2 separate regions of the Homo sapiens genome follow, and region 1 is linked to region 2. The links come from fine-mapping of genetic effects on gene expression. A gene starts in region 2. The other region holds a variant in brackets. All regions are shown on one strand. Distances are between the middles of the regions.

The links. PIP is the estimated chance that this variant, and not a neighbour inherited with it, causes the effect.
Region 1: its variant is fine-mapped to the expression of OXGR1 in lung (TOPMed, PIP above 0.99).

What each region holds. Positions count from the first base shown.
Region 1 is chr13:97,019,766-97,022,684 of GRCh38, forward strand. No RefSeq gene overlaps it. Among named protein-coding and RNA genes, the nearest start is that of OXGR1, 27 kb to the left of the region's middle. The variant T/C (reference allele first, on the strand shown) is at 1,586.
Region 2 is chr13:96,993,352-96,996,270 of GRCh38, forward strand. It overlaps OXGR1 (oxoglutarate receptor 1), which reads right to left and starts at 1,125. Exons shown (of 4, transcript NM_001346194.2): 1 at 947-1,125.

The sequences.
Region 1 (2,919 bases), 26 kb after region 2:
ATGTCTGAAATAGAACTTTTCATATTATCATATAAAGCCACTTCTCTCCCTCTGGAATTAGGAAATGGCACCACCACCACCCGCATGCCTTTCTCACACATTAAACCCATTCATTCATTAAATTGTTACACATCTGTTTAATTATAACATCTCTTAAAATTTAACAAACCCACCCAGTTTTTCTCTGTCTCTACTGAACCTCCCCCTGCCCCAGCTTGGCCATCATCATATTTCATCTTCACCAGTCTCCTTCTTTCTCCATATCATAGCCACAGTGGTCTCCCCAATCTACAACCTCATTATACATGAAAACCTCTACATAAAACCATCAAATGGCTCTCTAGGGTGACCAGTTGTTCTGAATAGTCCAGGACTATTTCAGTTTGGCACTGAAAATCCTGTGTCTTGGGAAAGTTCTCAGACCCAGGAAAACTAGAGTGGTTGGTGACCCTATTTCAAGTAAAGCACAAGTTCTTAGTCTGGTTTATAAGACGCTTTGTGCCTTTCCTGACCCCCTAATTACTTTATTAAATGTTATCTCTTGTCTCTTGCCTACTCACAATCTGTATTCCAGTGATGTTAATTTTCTGCCCATTACAAGAGAATTCCATCTAATCTTTTGCATCTCCAGGCTGTAGTACTTTCCTGTCTGAAAGATGTCCATCGTCTGGCTTCCTTTCTGCTCCTCTGGTCCCCTGTCTATGCCATCACACATTCTTCCTAGGTCCTACATGTTATTTAGGTTTAAATTTACACATTTCTTTCTCTAGAAAGCCTTTTCTGAACACTCAATATGTTACAGCACACCTCCCATGAGCACCCAAAGCTCCTGGGATTTAACATGGTAATTTCACTTATGTTCTTTATTATAATGACTATGTTTGTCTTTTGAAAAAAATTTTTAGATGTTATTGTCCTTTGCCATCAGATTCCCTAAGGGAAAGAACAATGGCTATGTTGCTGCGCATTGTGTTCTCAGCACCTAGTAGTGTGTCTGGCACATAGAAATTGATCAATACGTATCTTTTAAATGCAAAAAAAGGCAACTGAATGACAGCCCACTGGATAGCTCTGCCTGGTTCTTTCCCAGGCAAAGTCACCTCCTGTCTAGCATCCCCCTTCCCCCAACTCTCAACTTCTCAGCTTGCTCCTTCTTCTGCATTATTTCTCTAAATAAAGATATGCATCTCTTGTCTTGCCCAAGACAGACATCTAACAGGCATTCCTTTTTTATCCACCTCCTACCTTCCACCTCCAGACAATCACTACATTCGATCACTTCTCACTTTTGCATGACTCAAGAATTTGCTTACTTCTCTACCACTACCCTGGTTCTCCCCCATCATGAACAGAATGCTAATAACCTCCCACCTGGCTTTTTACCTTTTCTACATTTTCCTTTGTAGACACCAGTTTTCACACTGTGGACAAGATGATCTTTTAAAATTACTGCTGATCTTTTCAATTTTATCTTCCTTTACACTTTCCTTCCTTTTCTGGCCCCTCTCTTGGAAGCCTTCCTGATTACTCAGGGCTGGATCTGATGTGTTCCCATGGTGAGTGGTACATAGTCGTAAATGTTGCA[T/C]TTATAAAATTATCATAAAATTACCTGGTGATGCATGTCAGCTTCCTCCCCTCCAAGGTTAATTCTCTGATGGCAGTCTACAGTTTATCACTTGCTTCACAGAGTCCAATGTCCAGTGCTCAATGGGTGCTTGTAGCACGAGTCAATGAACGGCTCTTTAATACAGGACATTCACTGCTTATCAGTGAATTATTCACATATATACAATGGAGAAAAAGGAACACTGATAAGGTTAAGGTAAACATCAATCGTATCATTTAGAATTATCAGACCTATTATTCTGATTCAAGTGGAAATAAAACTAGCCAGTTAATACTCATGTATTTACATAGGTAAATACAAAAGATAGTATAAACACAGAATTTTTGTTTGTTATTCTTTTTTGCCTATCTGATTTAAAAGACAGCTGTACATACTATGTCTGTGTTGATGGGGACACAATGTATAAAGACGTAATCTGTGACAATAATAACATAAAGAGAGGCAGAGCTATACACGAATGGAGTTTTCGTATACCATCAAAACTAAGTTATCTGCTTTCCAGGTGAAGTTTACGTACATGTGTCACTCAATTCAGAGATTCAGAGTGGAGGTAAGGAATGAAGGGTTCAGTCTGTGAAAAAAACCAATCCACGGTAGGGTTGAACATGAATCTTCCCTTAGTAGCGGTACTGCAGATGTGTGTTTTGCTTGCTCTGTTGCCACAGGCTGGAGGGCAGTGGCTCACCGCAACCTCCACCTCCTGGGTTCAAGTGATTCTCCTGCCTTAGCCTCCCGAGTAGCTGGGATTACAGGCACACACCAACGCACCCGGCTAAATTTTGTAGTTTTAGTAGAGACAGGGTTTTTTGTTGTCCAGGCTGGTCTCGAACTCCCGACCTCAGGTATCTGCCCACCTCGGCCTCCCGAAGTGCTAGGATTTACATGTGTGGGCCACTGCACCCAGCCCAGAGAAGAAAAACTTCTAAAGGGAATAAATCATCTCATCCAAGACTGATATTCTTATATCGTATGTAATATATTGTTACAGCTATTAGCATAGCCAAATTGTAACAATATACTACATATAGATGCTAAGCCATTAATATAAATGACTTGCTATATTGCTCTCAACAATTTGAGATTTGTCTTACTCAAGCTTTTTACCCCTTGTTCTAGCAGGTACATGGTTTTTATAATCCTTGTGGATTTGAAATCTAAGACATCAAAACTAAAGTCAAAAAGACATATCTAATACCAGAATAAAAGCACAGTCAGATGTCTGGAAGATGAATCAGATTTCCAGGTAACTGTCAAACACTTAGTCTTTTTTTAAAAGATGGGGAAAAAAAATT
Region 2 (2,919 bases):
GGGATTACAGGCCCGTTCCACCACGTCTGGCTAATTTTTTGTATTTGTATAGAGACAGGGTTTCACCAGCCTGTTGGCCAGGCTGGTCTCGAACTACTGACCTCAGGTGATCCACCTGCCTCAGCCTCCCAAAGTGCTGGGATTACAGACGTGAGCCACACACCCGGCCAATCCCCAATTCGTTAAATAAGAATCTGCAACTCAGTTTCCCTGAAGACTATTAAGAGGTCATGTTGATGCAGCCCAAAGATATGGTTTTGCCTATTTATTCTTCGGGAGAAACAAATACAACTTCTGAGAGCTCGCTTCAGAAAAATGCATGCATGGACACGCAAATATTATACATACAAGTTAGAGGTTTAGAGACCATTACAAGCTAGTTCACGAATCCATAGCAACGAAACAAAAAACAAGACAGAGAAGAAAGACATTTCAGGGGAAACATTTTCCTCGCTTGTTGGGGGTGGGGGTGGGGCAGAGTCTTTGGTCGTTTCCAACACCACACAGTCCACCACGATGCAGGGTGAGCTTTGAGAACATTCAGCAGGGCGGTGATCAATGGGGTGAGGGATTAACTCTGTTTGTCTCCTAAGCACTCTCCCTGCCCACCTCCCAGACCCCTCACTTGGGTGTGAAAAAAAGTGTGAGATGAAATCAGAGATCCCTAACTCCCCCAGTTCTCTCCAAGTCAAATGTCTTCTCGCCCTGGGCTTTTTGTTCCCTAAAATGAAACTTCGCCTCCCGCCACAGGATCTGGGGTGCTCCTGCTGCCTCCAGAGAAGAAGGGGGCGCTGCTCCGTCCGACCCTGCCTGCTGCAGGGACGTGCGGGGGTGCTCTTTCCCCTGCTCCTCGGGCACCTCCCGTCTCCCTCCGGGTCAGGGCAGGGTCCCCTATACCCGCTCCCTCCGGCCGGTGGGCCCCGCTCCCCGATCACGCGCGGCTCACCTGGCAGCCCCGGCGAGGCGGACATGCGCCCAGCGTGCCTGTGCAGCCTAGTTGGTCCCGGACCGCAGACCTGTCCCGGGGAGGCTGCGCACCGCCCCGCCCCTCCCACCCCTCCGAGGCCCAGCGAGCAAGTGCGTGTTCTCGGGTCCTCGCCCCGAGCAGCCTGGCCAGCAGCATCCCGCCTCGCCCACTTCCCAGTAGACACAGGGACAGCGGCTTCCACTCCCGGGACCTCTGGACATCCTCCATCCCGGTTTGGCGGGAAACTGACCCAGGAGAAAGTGTTTGCAGAGGTTCCAAAAAACCAGCCCGGCGGGAGGGTTGTTGCCCCAGGAGGGTTGTGGCCGCCTTGTCTTGGTCCAGAAATTTCACCACTCTCCTACAGCCCAGTGCCTCTTTTTTTTTTTTTTCTTTTGAGAAGGAGTCTCGCTCTGTCGCCCAGGCGTCCAGTGCCTCTTATTTAGCGTGGGATGGAGGCGACTTACTGAAGCGTTGTCATTTCCCTGTATCCAATTACAACCCTGCCCTCCAGCGCTTAGCAAGGTGGCTTAAAAATAGTTTCTATCCCTGCAAAGAGCGTTTGTCTGTATCTCCAGATCTAGGGAGTAGGTTGCCTTCTTGCTACATAACTTAGGATTCGCCTTTTCTCTTCTCTGAACCTCAGCCACATCGTCCAGTATACTAGCGCCTCCCGAACCGTTGAACTTCAAGATCTCTTCCAGCATCAAAGAGTTCACTGTATTAGCGAATGGGGGTGCTTGGAGAATGCCCCTCTTCGCTCTTCCATGGACGGGCATTGAATGTCTCTTCTGCACTTCCATGTTGATGGGCATCAAACACCATGTATAGCCCATCCTCTGGGAATGCCAGCCAGCAGGAGCAAGAATGTTAGGTTAGGTGTCCCACCAGGGCCCAGGTGGAAAGATTCCGCCCTGGCTGATGGTTGGGATAGCCCTAGTTAGGCATTTTTATTATCATGCTTATCATTTTGATTATTTGAATTCCAGCCTCTCCAGGAAAATATTTTGCATTAGGAGAAAAAATGTTCTCTAATTTTACTATGTTTAATCATTTTTTCAATTCTTCATCTGGAAATAGTTGACCCTGTTTTGTTCCCACCTATGCATTGATCAGACATTTGCTGTTTGATTATTCTGTGTCAAGCACCGTGGAGATATTGAAGAATAATACATAATCTTTGCTTCCAGGAGCTGATGTCTTATAGGAAAACAAGAAATAAATTAAAAACATGATTAGGGCTTGCCACTTGTAAATAAGGGGCTGGGAGGGGACTAAACCCAAATGAAGGCTTTCTGAAGTAAAAGACATCCCAGTGTTTTTCCATGGTGAGCAGGATTTCCAGCTAACGAGGAAATGACTTAAAGAGGTTATTTGAAAAACAAGTACTGGGTCCTAGAACTCTAGACATGGAAAGGACATTTAAAAATATCCAGTCCTGTAAAGTTAAAATTGTGCAGGTGCTATGGAAAAAAAAAAGTATAATGGTTCCTCTAAAAATTAAAAATAGAATTATGACACAAGCCAGCAATTCTGCTTCTGGGAATATACCCCAAAGAATTGAAAGCTGAGACTCAAACGGATACTTGCACACCCATGTTCATAGCAGCATTATTCACAATAGCCAAAATGTGGATGCAGCCCAAGTGCCTATCAATGGATGAAGAAAATGTGATGTATACATTCCATGGAACATTATTCAGTTTTAAAAATGAAGGAAATTCTGACACATACTGCAACATGGAGGAACCCTGAGGACATTATGCTAAACAAAAGAAGCCAGCCACAAAAGCACAAATACTGTACGATTCTGCTTATATGAGGTGCCTGAGTTGTCAAAGTTATGGAGACAGAAATTAGAATAATGGTTGCCAGGAATTGTGGGGAGAGGGAATGAGGAGCTATTGTTTAATGAGTATGAAATTCAATTTTGGTAGATGAAAAGAGTTCTGTGG